4 linked regions of the Homo sapiens genome follow. The protein of the gene in region 4 purifies or fractionates together with the protein of the main gene of each other region. This does not show direct contact. Each region holds a gene or a part of one and is shown on either strand. Other genes may lie near its edges.

Region 1 (4,187 bases), on a different chromosome or scaffold from region 4:
GCGGAACATTATTTCATTGTATGCGTGGCTACACCACATTCTGCTTATCCGTTCATCAGCTGATGGACGTTTGAGTTGTTTCCACCTTGGCTATTATGAGCATTCATTGAACAATTATTTGCTTTTAGGTAATTTATTTTAAGTGGTATGTAGTCATTGTGGAAACTTTGAAAAATATTAAAGAATATAAAGGATGTGATAAAATTTGCTCATAATCCCACCACTCAAAAAAAAAAAGCTTTATTAACACGTTTTCTGTGGGGAAAAAAATGCATGTTTATATAATTTGTTTTATAATTCTTTATTTCTCTTGAAGATTTGCTTTGCATTTGAACAGATTTTGTTTGCTAAATCACAGCAAGACTGGCCAACTGCAGTTGTCATAAATAATTTATCAGTCATTGTGCAATGGGAGTATAGTGGAGTTATCTGCCATCAGATGGGCATGGGGAGGGTTTAGAGAAAATTTCACAGAGGAGGAAACATATATTATGAAAATATGCATGAGGTTCTGATACCTGTCAGTAAATAAAACATTGGGTCTTCTAATAAGGTCGTATTTGTTCTGTTGTAGGAGGCTGGCAGGATGTACAGTTTTTATCACAGGTGCAAGCCGTGGCATTGGCAAAGCTATTGCATTGAAAGCAGCAAAGGATGGAGCAAATATTGTTATTGCTGCAAAGACCGCCCAGCCACATCCAAAACTTCTAGGCACAATCTATACTGCTGCTGAAGAAAGTGAGTGTGACAGTGCCATTTGATAAAATGTCTTTCTAGTGGTTTCAATACATAGAGAATTTGCTGGAGAGTTTAGTTAAAGCTATTTGAAAGCTACCCTGAACATAATTTTATCTAGTGAAAGAAGTATTTATGTTGTCACCTTGGGGCAGTGCTTCTGACCGTTTTTCTCCACCAGCACTTTTAAGCAATGTGAGAAACTCCAGTTAAAAATCTTATTTCATGGCGGGGCGTGGTGACTCACACCTGTAATTTCACCCAGCTACTCGGGAGGCTGAGGCAGGAGAATCACTTGAACCTGGGAGGTGGAGGTTGCAGTGAGCCAAGATCATGCCACAGCACTCCAGCTTGGGTGACAGAGCGAGACTCCATCTCTTAAAAAAAAAAAAATCTTGGTTCTTGAGGGCAGTGGTTCTTGGATGGGAGGGGGAGTAGGGAAGTGGAGTAGAGAGGAGAGAATTTGATTGGTGAGTGGCATGAACTCTTTGAGAAAGCGTTCTGTGTTATTTATTCTCTGTACAATTTGCAAGTCATCATTTTAATACTTTTAGTTGACAAATAATTATCACATACTTCTATTTAAGGCATAGCGCTAGGCACAGAGCCAGGAGAGAGGGCTTAAAAATTCAAGTTCAGTTGACATTGCTAGTTTTGTTAATCATGTTCAGAGCACTGTGGTTATGTTAGAGGAATGCATGTGAAGTGTTTATGAGTGAAATGATGTCAGGGATTTGCTTTAAAACACACCAGCAAAAAATAAAACAGGGGACAGGAAAGATAAACATATTAACTGACAAAACTAACAATCGTTGAAGATAGGTGATGGATTCCTGTTAGTTTATTACAGCATCTTTACATTTTTATATAGTTTAGAATATTTCCACAATAAAAAGTTTTTAAAAATTACTTTCAACTGGGTGAGGTGGCTCAAGCCTGTAATCCCAGCACTTTGGGAGGCCAAGGCGGGTGGATCACTTGAGGTCAGGAGTGCGAGACCAGCCTGACCAACATGGCAAAACCGTGTCTCTACAAAAAATAGAAAAATTAGCCTGGCGTGGTGGTGCATGCCTATAGTCCCAGCTACTTGGGAAGCTGAGGTGGGAGGATCCTTTGAGCCTGGGAGATTGAGGCTGCAGTGAGCTGTGTTTGTGCCACTTCACCCAAGCCTGGGCAAGAGAGTGAGACCCTGTCTGAAAAACAAAAACAAACAAACAAAAAACTTCCTTTTTTTAGCTTTTTAAAAAAATTACAAAGAAACCCCCACCAAACCTTCGTTTTTGTTTTTTAATAGTGTTAGCCTAGCTAGTCTGTCCTGCTATATGGTAGAGTCACTGGTGGTAAGATAGAGTTATTTATATTGATTTTCTGAAAACAGGGTACTTTTTTCTTTTGACTGTGATATTGGAATTAAAGGTATAATATTTAAATGCTTTAACGCTTTTTCATTTTGTATCCTTTATATAAGTTGAAGCAGTTGGAGGAAAGGCCTTGCCATGTATTGTTGATGTGAGAGATGAACAGCAGATCAGTGCTGCAGTGGAGAAAGCCATCAAGAAATTTGGAGGTAATACCTTCATTCTGAAAAAATTATTGGATATTGGTAAAATAAAGGTATAACTATAATGTTAATTTAAAAATTTGTTTTGAGTTTTGAATTTTCTGAGTCTTTGGAGAAATACGTATTTGCTCACACAGAACATGATTTAAAACCATCTGATAAGGCTGGGCGTGGTGGCTCACACCTGTAATCCCAGCACTTTGGGAGGCCGAGGCAGGCAGATCACTTGAGGTCAGGAGTTTAAGACCAGCCTGGCCAACATGGTGAAACCCCGTCTCTACTAAAAATACAAAAATTAGCTGAACATGGTGGTGGATGCCTGTAATCCCAGCTACTCAGGAGGCTGAGGTGGAAGAATTGCTTGAACCTGGGAGGTGGAGGTTGCAGTGAGCTGAGATTGCACCACTGCATTCCAGCCTGGGTGACAGAGCAAGACTCTGTCTCAAAAAGAAAAAAAAAAAAAAGAAAAAGAGTGTGGAATGATAGACTGTGGAGACTGGGAAGAAAGAAGGGATGCAAGGGGGGTAGATGAAGAGAAATTACTTAATCGGTACAATGTTTGCTGTTTGGGTGATGGATACCCTAAAAGTCCTGGACACTGCACAATCTATGTATGTGAGAAAATTGCACTTGTGCCTTATATATTTGTTTTTGAAAAAATTCTTCCTTTATGTGGTTAAATTTCATCTTCTTCACAAAGTCAGTTCCCTCACCATGCCAACTAATCAGAATTATATTTTTCTTTCTCTGATTTCTTTTTTCTTTTTTTTTGAGACTGAGTCTTGCTCTTGTCACCCAGGCTGGAGTGCAGTGGCGCAATCTCGGCTCACTGCAACCTCTGCCTCCTGGGTTCAAGCGATTCTCCTGCCTCAGCCTCCCGAGTAGCTGGGATTACAGGCGCCTGCCACCATGCCCAGCTAATTTTTGTATATTTAGTAGAGACAGGTTTCGCCACATTGGCCAGGCTGGTCTCGAACTCCTGACTTCATGATCCACCCAACTCAGCCTCCCAAAGTGCTGGGATTACAGGCGTGAGCCACCGTGCCCGGCCTCTCTGATTTCTTAAAACATTCATTTGATCCTTATCTTGTACTATTTTAGATCTTAGTATTTCTTTTCTCCCCAATTAGTTCAAAAGTTCCTAGAAAAAAGGTGTTGGGGATTGAGCTAAGGCTTTCATGGTATTATAGTAGGGCACCTAGGCATGTCCAAATCCTGCCTAAACCATTACCACTCTCCCCGCTAATGTTCTGGAGGACCATATGTACATGTGAGGGACAATGGCCAGTGGAAAATGAGGGAATGCTTCAGTGTTAGCAAGGCTGTACTTATAATCCCAATGCAGAGTGCTGTGGGGTGCTGGACTGAAGCACGGAGCTTTGGCTCAAGTGGAGCCTCTTCCCTTAAATCCAAAATCTTACCCCTAGCCGGCAGCCTTTCCCAAAGAAATGTGAATGCCTGTGTCAGAAGAGGAGAGAAAATGCAAAATGATGTTTGTCCAACTGATAGGGCGCTAAATGTGAAATGTGCCACGCTCAAATGCAGGATATTTTATCTAAAATGACTTCACCTAGTAGTAAAAGTGGTTAACTAGTGCCACTTAGGATTTGATGTAATTAGTTTATCCACTAATTTTTGGAGAGGACGTAAGGGGAGAAAGCTGAAGCTTTTCATTCTCCCATATTCATTCAGTTTTAGTTCTTTTTTTTTTCTTCTTTGAAACAGGGTCTCACTCTGTCACCCAGACTGGTATGTAGTGGCATGATCGTGGCTCACCACAGCTTTGGCCTCCTGGGCTCAGGTGATCCTCCAACCCCAGCCTCCCAAGAAGCTGGGACTATAGGTGCCCACCACCAGGCCTAGCTAATTTTTGTGTTTTTAGTAGAGATGG
Region 2 (4,851 bases), on a different chromosome or scaffold from region 4:
AAAAAAACTAACATTTATAGAGAACTTAATGTGTGCCAGTATCACTTCAACTGAATTATTCTATTTAATCCACATAACTCTGTAAAATTTGTTCTATTTTTCCCTTCTCAAGGTGAGAGAAACTGAGTGAGCTTGTCTAAGGTTAACTGAGTTCCCCGAGGTTGCATGATGTTAAGTAGCAAGCCAGACTACAAAATCCGGGCCCTTAAATAAATGCAATGTCTCCTGGCTGAAAGTATGACTGCCTTTACTGCTCACGTCACTCAACATATGCCTTGTGATAGTTAGTATTTTGTGTTAAATGTCTAAAAACCTCAAAACATTACAACACTTATTCAACAAAAATTTACTAAGAGCCTGTGTGCCAGGCATTGTTGACTACCGGGGCACATTAGAGAGCATCTACTAATGAAGATTAGATGAATTCTCTAAATACATGGACATCCCAGAAATATTGGTAAGAGCAAAATCCCAAATAATATGTACACAGCAAGTGTACTAGATAAAAACCAGTCTATGTAAGTACTTTAAAAGAGCACAGTCATAACATGACAAAGTTGTGGGTTTTTGTTTTTGGGGATTTGTTGTTATTTACTATTTCACTGAATTAAGCTTTTGGTAAGAGAATTAAGCAACAGGGTCGGACGCAGTGGCTCAAGCCTGTAATCCCAGTACTTGGGAGGCCGAGGCGGGCAGATCACCTGAGGTCAGGAGTTCGAGACCAGCCTGACCAACTTGGAGAAACCCCGTCTCTACAAAATTAGCCAGGCGTGGTGGCGCATGCCTGTAATCCCAGCTACTCGGGAGGCCGAGGCAGGAGAACTGCTTGAACCCGGGAGGTGGAGGTTGCAATGAGCCAAGATCATGCCATTGCACTCCAGCCTGGCCAACAAGAGCAAAGCTCCGTCTCAAAAAAAAAAAAAAAAGAGAGAGAGAGGAAATACTTAAAAAAAAAAACCTGTGTTTTATGTACTCCTCTTTCCCCATAAAACAGGAGAAATAGCCTAGAGAAAGATTAATGAGCACCTCTGTGCCTAACATTCTATTGTAATCTGGCTTTCTTTAGGAAGATGTGATGTCTTCTGGTTAAGGGTGGCAGGTACTATAAGGGAATACTATCTATATAAATCTTCTTACAATTACAAACTTCTGAAAACTTGTAGCTGATGGTAAATTTTCATACAATGGCATCAAACCTTTGAACTGAAAGGAATCTTGCATAACATCTCCTTCAGAACCCCCCCCACTCCACCCCGCGCCCCTCCACCTTATTTTACAGATTTGTTGGTTACTAAATCCTAAAACCTTAATTCTGGGTCAATGAGAGTAATGCAGCTACCTATACTGTTGAAATGTAGTGGTTTACACTGCAATGGAAATGCACTTCAGAAATAAGTCTGTGTATGCTAGTATCAACCCTGCATGTGGAGTTTTTATTTTAATTACTAACCAGCTATGTTTTCTTGAACTTAACCTTTTTTGTTCTTTTTTTTTTTTCCACTCTCAGCTCACACCTATTTTTTTTCTCTTTTCGAACTTCACCCTTTCAGGCCTGGATGTCTTCATCTGGATAAATTCTAACCGTTGTTGAAAAGCCATGTGGTAAATATTTTTGAAACCTAAAGCCTTCTCTACGCAATAACACTAAGTTTTCATGGTAAATGACACAGTTTCAATATTCTCCCTTTCACATTATGGTCAGTAGTTTGCATTCGTTGCTTGAAGAGGCGAAATGAATAGTCTACAGACACTGGGAACCAAGTACAGCTCAATCCTGAAGAACTCATCGGCCCCTGGACGGGCGCGCACACACCCCCCTGTAATGGTGACTAGTCATTTCGGGGCGCTGTACTTCAGAGCACGACCCCCCTCAAACATCAAGGCCCTAAAGGTGAAAGCCCAGGAAAACGTCGATTCGGACAGCAGCCTCTACCTGCTGCTTTTAGAAGCTGTGGCCTGCCGGAGTCAAACCCCCAAAACGTTTTTCTTAAACTAAGGGTTCAGGCCTCAGATCGGCATCTCGCCCTCTCCGATTTCAGGAGCCCCGAAAAAAGGAGAAGAATAGGCCGCCACTGAACGGCTCAGCCCCCTGACCAGGAGCTGTCCGGATGTTTTTTGTGGCGGCTTGCAATTCGCTGTGACCTTTCCAGGAAGTGTTGCACACGGGCGTGTGGCAAACGAGCTGGCCGTTTCTCGCGGTCCTGCTAAAACGCTGTCAACCTGGCGCTCCACCAGAGGCCCCTTGGCTTCTCGGGAGGCGACCGAGGAGCTCTGGGGGCGGGGAGGCTTTTACAAGAAGCGAAAAGACGGCCTCAGGGGTGGCCGGGAACAGCCTGGAATCAGCTGGAGGACGTCAGCAGGACTGAGGAAAGGGCTACCACCAGCGTGAGGAAAGGGGGGAAGAGGGCGGAACGCGGCGAACGGCCGCGCTGGGAGGCTGAGGCGGGGTCCCAGCGAGCCGGCGGCTGGGAAACAATGGCGCGAGCGTGACGTGGGCCGGAGGCGTCGCGGCGGCGCGGAGGAAGGGGCTGCCGTGGGGCGGGGGCCGCACCGAGGGAGTTGGGAGGCGTGCGGCGTCCGCGAGCGCGCTGGCGGGGACTCGGCCTAAGGAGAGGGGCCTTGGGGCCATGGTCCCTGGGGGCCGGGGGCGGGGGCAGGCGGCGGCCGCTACCCTGGGGTCGCGTGTTCGGCCGCGCACCTCCCCACCTAGCTCCCCGTTCGCCCGCTCCTTCCCCGCCCGCCCACGGGGCCCGCCGCACTCACCGGCTCCAGCGCACCGCAACAATCCCAGCGCGCAACTGCCGCAGCCGCCTCAACGCGCGCCCTCCCCGCCCCCGCCGCCCGGCACCGCCCCGCGCCGCCCCTCTGCTCGCGCCCGGCCAGGGACCGGCGCGCTGTTCCGTCCCCCAGCTCCGCCGCAGAGTTCGGCGAAGCCGACGCTCCCTGACCGCGCTGCGTCTGTCTGTCCCGCGGGTCTGGAGATCTTCAAACGATGGAACACCGGCTTTGCCCTTCTGAGGGTCTCCATCCCTTGGCATTCTGCCTGCGCCCCTCAGCCTGGCCCTGGGCTAACCTCTCCACTGTGTCTCATTCAGAAGAAGCTTTTCCTTGGGAGGAGAGGGCATCCTTTTTCCCAGTCACAGAATGTTTTGGTCTAATGGACCTCAAGGCCCCTCATGCGTCCACACCCCCATGGCACCCTCGAATCCCCTTGATGGCTAAAAACACCAGCTTTGAAGTTTGTCAGAACGAGTTCCAGTCCCAGTACCACCACTTACAAACTGTAACCTCGGGCGAGGTACCTGACCTCCTATACCTGGTGCCCACATTTGTAGCACCAGGATAGGGAACAACAGTCCCCACATCAAAGGGTGTTGACGGGATGAAATCACACAATATAGGTGAGGCCCTCAGCAGGATCCTGGCACACAGTAAGCACTCAATAAATGTTCACCCCACCACCAGCAACTCAGCAGGAAGACTCCGCAAAAGCAGCTAGCTATTTCCAGAGGACTGAATTCCTTGGTCCGAGCAGCTCTCACCAGTGAGAAAATGTGTCTAAACTTCCACTCTCAGGGCCGAAATTCGATGCCTTGGAGCCACAGAGAACAAACGTCTAATCTCTCCTGGACCTTTGACTTTTCAGATACTTTACTTCTATCACCTCTGCCCAAGGTCTTCTCATTCCACATCAGTGTCTCCCGTTCCTTCCATTGTTCCTCCTCTGCCCTGGTTTTGAGGGTCTTTATCCCTCTCACGCAAATGGTAGATTTGACTGTGATTTCTTTAGAATACATCACCCAAGACTGAACCAAATGTTTGTGGTATCATCAGAGCAAAGCAGGACTATAGCTTCCTCCTTTTGGGACCTATCGCTTTGCACTCCTGCGATAAAGTTCTTGGCACCCATACTGTTGACTCATATTGGGCTTGCAGTCAACCAAAACCTCCGCGTCTTTTTAATAAGTGCTCCGCCAGAGCACTTCTACCCCTTCTTGTGCTTCTCAGCCAACTTCGCTTCAGGTCAGCTAAGGATAGACCTTGGGCCCCTCACCTTCTAAATTTCTCAGGATATATGGAAAAGAGGAATAGGGGTTGGAAGCTGGCATAACACAATCTTTAAACCAAGTGCATTTGAAAAAAGGCCAGGGTGGCGGGGCGTGGTAGCTCACACCTGTAATCCCATCACTTTGGGAAGCCAAGGCAGGTGGATCATTTGAGGTCAGGAGTTCAAGACCAGCCTGACCAACATGGCGAAACCCCATCTCTACTAAAAATACAAAAATTAGCTGGGCATGGTGGCACGCACCTGTAGTCCCAGCTACTCGGGAGGCTGAGGCAGGAGAATCGCTTGAACCCGGAAGGCGGAGGTTGCAGTGAGCCAAGATCACGCCACTGAACTCCAGCCTGGGCGACAGAGGGAGACTCCATCTCCAAAAAAAAAAAAAAAGAAGAAACGAAAAAAGGCCAGGGTTTGTGTCTAAACACTATGGTACTGAGAGAAAAACAAATATAGAGACACACACAAATGAATGTGATCACAACTGTGAAAAAAAACTGCACACGCAAAAGACTACAGGGAAATATGTAATTGATTATGTTGTTTTCTCTCAGTGATAAGATGGGGTGGTTTCTTCTTTGTACTTTTGTATTAATTTCTTACGGTGTTTGTATTACTTTTATAATCAAGAACTTTGTTTTAAAAAATAAATCAGAAAAAAGAATTTAAAAAATCAGAGAGATGGAATAACTTGAAAAAAACTGAAAACAAAGTTAAAAGATAACAGAATAAGGGGAAAACTATTCGCAATACACAAAAGACAAAGGATTTGTCTATAAAGGACTCTTAAC
Region 3 (4,187 bases), on a different chromosome or scaffold from region 4:
TGCTGGGTTCTCAGCCTCAGCCATCTTGGGGACAGGGGTAGACATGAAAGGACCCTGCTGGCTGCTGGGTGCATAAGGCTCCTGAAAGGCCTGCATGGCTGTGGGGAGCCCAGGTGGACGTTGTCAGCAGACTAGCCACCACCTCCTCCAAAGCTACTGACAGCCTTTTCAAGGAATCTTTAGAAGAAAATGAGCAAAGTCTCTATCTACACCACTCAGAGACCAGGCTGCCAGCCAGCTTTACAGAGAAGAGAAAGCAAGCCCTACTTTGATCCAATGGACTGGCACTTTATGTTCATAATTTCATTTACTCCTTGTTGATAGCCCTGGGAGAGAGGTGGTGGTGGCCTCTGTTTTACAGGAGTCAGGAAGCTGTGGCTCAGAGAAATGACACCATGGTCACGGTCCCCCACATGGTTGATAGCAGAATCCAGATTGGAGTCCACGTCTGTCTGGGCCAAGCCTGAGCTCTTCCACGGTCCCACACCACTAAGGTTTTGTTCTTTATGAAAGGCTCTCGGGCCCAGATAGCTCCTTAGAGATCCCAGGTAACAGAACAAGCTTTGGCTTCAAAAGAAAAAACTGTCATTTGTACAAAGCCATCCATCAGCAGTGCTCATAATAGCAAGAAACTGGAAACAACCCAAAGGCCCCGAAAACAGGCATGGCGGAGCAGCTGATAGGTCCTCCATGCAGCAGAGAGTTACGCAGCCATGGCAGTGGCAAGGTGCAGATTGTCCTGAGGTGGGGACACACACCTGGGGCACCTCGGGTGAGGAAGCTCCTCGCTGAGCATGCGGTGCCCACTAGAGACAGCCTGGAGCTCTGTGACAGGCCTGGGTGCACACCCTCCTGGGCCGCTAGCCGGGTGCATGGCTTTGGGTGGGGATGAGAACCCTGAGGCTGGGCTTTGGGTAGCTGGCTTGCCAACAAGGGGTATGCCACAGGGTGATACCTGGGAAAGGCTCGGCAAGGGCCCGCCACCACACTGGTGCCCAGCAGATGGCCGTCCAGTGTCTAATGTATCTGCAAATAGACTGGCATGGACCCCAGGAATCCAGAATCCTGCGGAATCAGGAGCTTGGTCTGCCTGGGTCTTTTTCTCCCCTGTGAAGTTGTTCTAAGTCATGATGTACAAGGGGCTTAGAGTTTAGCCCATTGGGAATTAAGGGTCAGGCCCCCACTTCCTTTGAAGGCTAGAGGCAGACCACCCCAACTTCACCCCACCCAGACCCAGGTCCAGTGGTACAAAAGCTGGCTGGCTGGGGTGTGGTGTAGGCCAGGTGGCTCCCTCAACTCACCAGCCATCCTTGATCCCTCCTTGGCCAGGCCGTCCTGCGATGTGCTGGTGGAAAGGGGGCCGATGGCCTGTTTAAACCCACCTGTGATGGATTTGTCATCTCCACTGCCGGCCGAGCCTGTGCAGGTTCAGGTTGAGCGGTGGCAGGATGTGAAATGCTGCTCAAGGTTTAGGCCCAGGTCAGAGCCTGTTGAGCCCCATAATGTCACGTGACTCAGTGTCTCCTCCCTTTCTAGTGTGGTGCCTCTTGTCCAGATGGGAGAGACCGATGCGAACGTGGCCAAGTTCTTAAACAGGTACTCGCGTGGAACCTGGGGGTTCCTCTCTGAAAGCCGAGGCTCATCTGTGGGAAGTAGCAGCGGTGCAGCGGTCCGGGAAGCAGTGTGGGGCAGCATTCCCGCACCCCCTCCTTCATTCCCTTAGTGTTTATGAACATCTGCTCTGTGCCAGGCACCACGCCGGGCACAGGGGAGGCAGTGGTGAACAAGGTGGGCCCTGTGCCTGTCCCGATAAGATTTAGATCTTATTGGGAGAGGCTGCTGTAAAAACCAGGAAGAAAAACCTAAGTGCAAAGTGGCATTGCGGGGGCAAAGGGCGTTCTTAGAGGCTGGGTGCTCAGGGGAGGCCTCTCGGTGGTGACTGACCAGGGAGCCAGGCTTCAGGCCCTCTCTCAGCCAGTTTCCTGTCCCCGAGAGGGCCTGCGGCAGCATGAACCAACAAGAGAGCCGGGCCAAGCTGCGCTCAGGGGACCCCATGCAGGCCCCAGTGAGCCAGGCTAGCCCAGGGAGGGCTTCCTCTGCCTCGCGGCCGGCCCATGAGGCTGGAGCCACACCTGGCCCAAAGCCTGCTCTGCGGGTTCCTGCCCCAGCCCTGGCTTCTGTGGCATCAGTGTGGGCAAGGCCAGAGCCTGGGGGCAGGTAGAGAGCTGGGGGAGCAGGTCTGCACCCCAGGAGCTGTCCTGGGTGTCTAGAAAGTGACCTCAGGCCCTTGACTGTGGCCACTCCTCCCAGAGACATGGCGCTTTGACGGGTCCTGAGCAGCTCCTTTCCTTCTGGGAGGGGGGTTTCGCCGGGAGTGAGGAGCAGGTCTACTTCACCTTCAAAGCAGCAACCCTGCGGTCCCATAGCATTGCACGGGACAGGCCATTTCATCTCCTCAGTGAGGCTTCACAGAGCCAACAAGCAACAGGCACACCACTGCCCTCCAGGAGCATGCGGCCCAGGGGTAAAATACCCTGAACAACCTCCCCTTCGCTCTTCCTGAGAGCCAGCCGTGGGGCCCAGGGGGCCTGAGTCAGGGGAGGACTCAGGAGGATGTGGTGTGGAGCTGGCCTCTGAGGGCAAGACTGGGGCAGAGAGAGAGGGAGGAACGTGGTGCCTCGTGCTGGGAGTGAAACAGCAAAAGGTGCGGACAGCAGAAGGCAGAAGAGCTGACAGCGTAAGCGCCTTCTGGGGCCCGTGGCGTCGTCCTCTAGTTCCCTCCACTGCTGCCCCTGCAGAAGGCCTCATGCACAGATGACCATTGCTGTTGGTTCAAAGGAGGAGGCGGGAAAGGGGCTGGGCTCTGGTCTCTAGAGTGCTCCAGCCTGTGCTTCTCACCCGGTACCTTTGGCGATGTTTGGAGGCATTACTAGTTGTCACACTGGGTGCAGGGGTGCCACTGGCACCTGGTGGGTGGAGACCAAAGGTGCTGTCAGCATCCTACACTGCACAGGATGCACAGGACAGCCCCGAACACACAGAATGATCCAGAATGTCAGTAGGGCCTAGTCCAGCAGTGTCAGCATCAGCCAGGGCAGGAACTAGACCTGCAGAGCCCCGGGCCCAGCCCAGCCCAGCCCTCCTGAGTCAGAATCTGCACGTCGCTGAGATCCCCTGGTGATGCCTGTGCACACTGTAGTTTGGGAAACACCCAAACTGATCACGCACCTGAGCCCTGATCACTCAAAGGTGCAAAAACCGGCTCAGAGAGGAGTCCAAAGTCATCTGCCCCATGGGGTAGGGCCGGGGCAATGGCCTCATCCTGCAGGAATGGCCCCAGCCTTGACACTGGAGTAGAGTCCTTGGCATTCACAGCAGCTGGCCTCGTGTGCCATCCATTAAGTGCAAGATGGCTGGGCCCCCGCCCTCCCTGCACAATGTGCCCAGAGTGCGTCATTTATATCTCCTCCTTGTAGGCGGATATGGGAAGACCCAGTTAGCGTTGATCTCTCATTTCAAACCATTCTGTTTGCTTCTCTCTCTCTGCCCCTCCAGACTCAGTGACTATCTCTTCACGCTAGCCAGATATGCAGCCATGAAGGAGGGGAATCAAGAGAAAATATACATGAAAAATGACCCATCGGCCGAGTCTGAGGGACTCTGAAATCACAGAAAGTGGGAGCTTGGAGGATCCCTCCATGGCGATGGCCGTGGAGAGAGGAGCTTGCCCTTCTGGGGTCCTGGTTCCTGAAGAGCTCACCCAGAGAGGCTCAAAGCAGCCTTTTGTCCCAGCTCAGCTTTGATCTACACCTCTTGCCACCTTCCTCAAGGGACTGTGACCCTTTGGGGATTCTGTCCCTGACCCTGCTTCCCCAAGCTCTCCTGGGTCTTGGAGGGATGTGGGAATGAATTGGCATTGCAGGAAAGACAGGTAAAGTGATTGCTGCAATGAGAAGGAGCTGTGCGGAAAAGGAATAAAAGTTGGAAAGGCTGGAGCCGTGTGTGTGTGTGTGTGTGTGTGTGTGTGTGTGTGTGTGTGTGTGAGAGAGAGCCCTCCCACTGCCAGCTCAGGTTGTTCACAGATTTGGAATGGGACCAGAGGCCCTTGAAAATGTAATTGTGATTTACCTGTGCCAAAGGTGCTTTAAATGTCACATTTGTAAAGGGGAAGGCGGACAAGATTTGGA
Region 4 (4,874 bases):
ATTCTCCTGCCTCAGTCTCCCGTGTAGCTGGGGCTTCAGGTGTGTACCACCACTCCTGGCAAATTTTTTTTTTTTTTTTTTTTTTTTTTTTTTTTTTTTTTTTTTTAGTAGAGACAGGGTTTCACCATATTAGCCAGGATGGTCTCCATCTCCTGATCTCGTGATCCGCCCACATTGGTCTCCCAAATTGCTGGGATTACAGGCATGAGCCACTGCACCAGGCCGTGTTGTTTCTTTTGACAGTATCTCCTCAAACCCCCAACTCCCAATTGTCTAGTAACCACCCATTTTACTCTTTGTTTCTATGAATGTGACATTTTTATGCTCCACATGTGAGATCACATGGTATTTGTCTGTTCCTGGCTTATTTCACTTAGCATATTGTTCTCCAGATTTGTCTATGTTTCCACAAATGACAAGATTTCCCTTTTTAAAGTCTGATCAATACTTTACTGTGTATACATACCATATTTTCTTTATCCATTCATCAACTGATGGACACTTAGGTTTATTCCATATCTTGGCTATTGTACCTAATGCTGCAATGAAAATGGGAGTACAGATATCTCTTCAATGTATTCATTTCATATCCTTTGGATATATCCTCAGTACTGGGATTACTAGATCATATGGTAGTTCCATTCTTACAGTAGTTTTGAGGAATGTCCATACTGTTTTCCATAATGGCTATACTAATCCACATTACCAGCAACAGTTTACAAGGGTTAACTTTTCTCCATATCCTCACCAACACTTACCTTTCGTCTTTTTGATAATAGCTGTCCTAACAGGCATGAGATGATATCTCATTATGTTTTTAATTTGCATTTACCTGATGATTAGTGATGTCAAGTATTTTTTCATATACCTATTGGCGATTTGTATGCCTTTTGAAAAACATCTCTTCAGATCTTTTACTCATTTTAAAAAATTATGTTTTTTAAAATTACTGAGTTGTTTGAGTTCCTTATATATTTTGAATATTTAACTCCTTATCATATGTTTGGTTTGCAAATATATTCTGCCATTCCATACGTTGCCTCTTTACTCATTTACTTCCTTTATTGTGCAAAAACTTTTTAGTTTGATGTGATGCCTTTTGTCTATTTTTGCTTTTGTTGCTAATGCTAGTTTTGAATGTACAAACAGCGTACATTTTTCAAAAATGTAAAACCACATCACGGAAGAATACTTTTACAAGGGTAATCAGGAATTTTTTGCCTGTAGTACTCATCTGAAGAATTTCCATCCTACAATTCAAATAAAGCAAGCCTTTTTATTGCAAGTTTGAAAGTATTTTATTTAATTTTACTATAAAGGAAGAAAAAATCCAAAGACTTTGAAAAATGGACAATGTTTACAATATATATAGATATATCTTATGTGCATATGATATATATGTATATATCTTATATGATATCTTAGATATATTCTGTCTATCTATCTATCTATCTATCTATCTTTGCAATGGCTATTTCCCCATTTTGCAATTTATTTGGACAAAATGGAGGAAGCCCAAAGTGACATTTTCTGCTGATTTTTTTCCAGACTATCCAAATATATTTAATTAATTTCATTAGGTACCTCCTCTCAGAAAAAAAGTAGTTGTTCTCCATTCTGGCAGATGTTTCTATGAAAGTATATGTTTAGTAAGTAGTATAGACTAATGCTTCAGCAAATCTAGTATTGATACTTTCAAGGTGATGATAGCTAACACTTCACAATTCTCTAAGAAGTGAGTAAACAAACAAGATGTCAATGAACTAATTGTTGCTTTTGGTTAAAAAATCTGCTTGTCAGAGAAAGAAGAAATAGAGGCCTACATTCTCTAGATTCATTACTTTGATTTAGCAACTGTCTTAAAACAGGTGTAAACAAAATTTTAAAATTATAATATTGACCACTTTTGTCTGTCTTCTCTTATAAGCAGCATTTGTCTATCTAAAAGAATAAGCATTTTTTTGTTTGTTTAGAGGTAACTGGATACCTTAATTAAAACTGTTTCATTATCTACATCATGAGAATGTGTTTAGCCTTCTTTGTAAGAAAGATTAAATATGACATGACAAGAGAATTACATAAATGATTAGACTATCTGACCAATCTGCTTGTAGCAGCCCCCAAACTGCCCCTTAGCCTCTCAGATATGCTATACATAGTTCTTTGAAAGGTCTTTCTGAAAACACTTATATCCTTGCCCTAATCCCAAATTTTTAGTGATACTTCACTGTCTTGAATCAAACCAGTGTATAAGTACAAGCTGTGTCCTTTACCCTCCAGTGACCTTGGGCACATTTCTTAACTCTCTATGCCTCAATTTCCTCATCTGTAGAATGGGGATAATAATAGTACCCATCTCACAGAGCAATGGTGAGCTTGAAATGACATAATACATGTAAAATTCTGATAACATAGTGCATGTCCAAACAGTTTTTACTAAACTTATCTTCTCCAGGAATAGTTACCCAGTGGAACATAGTTCTTTAACTCTTTCTTTCCTTCAGAGCTTATTTGCTTGGAGTGTATTACATTTTTGTGAGCTTTATGATAAACATTATAACAGAACCACATAGGTCATTTATTGTGTGTACACACACATGTTCTTTTCCTATGTATATTTTAAATTTACCTAGGAAAAGGACCAAGATATTTTCTTATTTATAATCCTCTGTCCTTGCTCAGAGTATTGCTCTGCACAAGAATACATTTAGTACTGTACTAATTAACTTCTTAAACAAATGAACTGGCTTCCTTACAGCAGTACCATTTTTTCTTTTTTTGAGACAAAGTTTTGCTCTTGTTGCCCATGCTGGAGTGCAATGGTGTGATCTCGGCTCACTGCAACCTCCATCTCCCGGGTTCAAGCCATTCTCCTGCCTCAGCCTCCCAAATAGCTGGGATTACAGGCGTTCACCACCATGCCCAGCTAATTTTTGTATTTTTGATAGAGACGGGGTTTAACCATGTTGGTCAGTTGGCCTCGAACTCCTGACTTCAAGTGATCCACCTGCCTCGGCCTCCCAAAGTGCTGGGATTACAGGAGTGAGCCACCGCGTTCAGCCAGCAGTACCATTTTTACTTGCTGTTCAAATAAAATTCATTTTTAGCCTTTAATTGCACTCTAATTTTATTTAACAGTTGTCTCTTAATTGTGCCTGATTTACTAATGTGTAATTGTCATGCAACAAATTACATTAGTTTACTAAATTTTCAGGTTTTAAAGAATTGGTGTTTTACCAACCAACTTCTAAATAGTAACACCTCACAAACTATTAATAGTTAGGAGGACACACAGAGTCTTCAGAAGAAAAATTTTGAAATCTAATGATGATCCACATTTAATATTAAATTAAAATGTCTGTTTATTTAACCCTTTCATTTCATTAGTATTTTCTTTCTAAAGGACAGTATTTTAGATAAGTATTGCAAAATTGCTTTACATATAATGAGCATTTAAAGGAAAATATAGATCAGAGTACCAGAGCTTATTTTAATAAACAGTACTCTATCTCATAAAATGGCTACCCTAATAACCCAGTTACTTTTATTCTTATCAGAATCTGTTGCTTGAATTAAGCATAATCAAACTTGCCACATTGCCTTTTCCTGTCTCATAAATTATGGAAAACAACTTCCCTCCAATTTCTTTATTGTTTGAAAAATACTTTTCTTTGGAAAGTCAAATCATATTTCTATTATAATCATAAAAATTATGCATGCTTGTTTTTTGAGGAACCTCCATACTGTTCTCCATAGTGGCTGTACTAGTTCACTACTTAAAGTGTATAAGAGTTCCCTTTTCTATGCATCATCACCTGCATTTGTTAATTTTTATCTTTTTTATAATAGCCATCCTAACTGGGGTGAAATGATATCTCTTCGTGGTTTTGATTTGCATATCCCTGATGATTAATGATGTTGAATATGTTTTCATATATTTGTTGGCCGTTTGCATGTCTTCTTTTGAAATGTCTATTCAGCTAATTTGCCAATTTTTGAAATGGGTTTTTTTTTGGCTGTTTTGAGTTCTTTGTATATTCTGGATATTAATTCCCTGTTGTATGAATACTTTGCAAATATTTTCTCCCATTCTCTAGGTAGACTTTTCACATTGTTGATTGTTTCCTTTGCTGTGCATAAGCTGTTTAGTTTGATATAGTCCCATTTGTTTACTTTTGCTTTTGTTGCCTGTGTTTTTGAGGTCTTATTCATAAAGCCTTTTCCCAAACCAGTGTCCTGAAGCATTTACTCTATGTTTTCTTCTAATAGATTTATAGTCTTGTGTCTTACATGTAAGTCTGATCCATTTTGAGTGTATTGTTGTATAGGCAGAGAGGTGGGGGAGTCTAGTTTCAGTTTTCTGCCTATGGTTATCCAATTTTCCCAGCACTATTTATTGAAGAGTCTGCCCTTTCCCAATGAGTGTTCTTGGAGCCTTTGTCAAAAATCAGTTGGCTGTAGATATGTGGATTAATGTTTTGATTTTCTGTTCTGTTCTATTGAACTACGTGCCTCTTTTTATGCCAGAAGTCAATTTTTTTAATACAAAAATCAGTTATTGAAACATTTAGATGGTTGGGAAAATGCCAGAAACCAGAGCTTAAGGGCATATCTGCCTTGGTAACTTAGAACAAAAGAGCTGGTTCTCAATATGTAAAAAAGATGTCCATAATAGAGTTTCAAATGAAAAAAGCAAGTTGTGAGACAATATCTATTATTTGCTCCCATCTATATAAAAAAGTATAGATGCATATATGTTCTGTGCATGTGTGTTTGTTTTCATTCACATAGAAAAATGTCTGACAATATATACACCGAACCAGTGAAATCAGATTGAAGGAAAAGCTTTAACTTTGTATTTTCTATTCTGAATC

The links. Proteins that work in one complex are often made in the same cells at the same time.
Region 1: the proteins of FAM133A (region 4) and HSDL2 purify together in Homo sapiens (affinity purification with mass spectrometry; one large-scale study listed by BioGRID and IntAct). This does not show direct contact.
Region 2: the proteins of FAM133A (region 4) and NT5C2 purify together in Homo sapiens (affinity purification with mass spectrometry; one large-scale study listed by BioGRID and IntAct). This does not show direct contact.
Region 3: the proteins of FAM133A (region 4) and MMAB purify together in Homo sapiens (affinity purification with mass spectrometry; one large-scale study listed by BioGRID and IntAct). This does not show direct contact.

The regions. Positions count from the first base shown.
Region 1 is NC_000009.12:112,403,421-112,407,607, forward strand, and holds part of HSDL2 (hydroxysteroid dehydrogenase-like protein 2), read left to right. Parts: intron 1-574; coding exon 575-738; intron 739-2,203; coding exon 2,204-2,302; intron 2,303-4,187. UniProt on the Homo sapiens protein: Has apparently no steroid dehydrogenase activity. Controls bile acid (BA) and lipid metabolism in response to nutritional cues.
Region 2 is NC_000010.11:103,190,473-103,195,323, forward strand, and holds the start of NT5C2 (cytosolic purine 5'-nucleotidase), read right to left. Parts: upstream 2,801-4,851; 5' UTR 2,764-2,800; exon of another isoform or gene 1,934-2,763; intron 1-1,933. UniProt on the Homo sapiens protein: Broad specificity cytosolic 5'-nucleotidase that catalyzes the dephosphorylation of 6-hydroxypurine nucleoside 5'-monophosphates.
Region 3 is NC_000012.12:109,556,505-109,560,691, reverse strand, and holds part of MMAB (corrinoid adenosyltransferase MMAB precursor), read left to right. Parts: intron 1-1,536; coding exon 1,537-1,596; intron 1,597-3,555; coding exon 3,556-3,664; 3' UTR 3,665-4,187. UniProt on the Homo sapiens protein: Converts cob(I)alamin to adenosylcobalamin (adenosylcob(III)alamin), a coenzyme for methylmalonyl-CoA mutase, therefore participates in the final step of the vitamin B12 conversion.
Region 4 is NC_000023.11:93,679,853-93,684,726, forward strand, and holds part of FAM133A (protein FAM133A), read left to right. Parts: intron 1-4,874.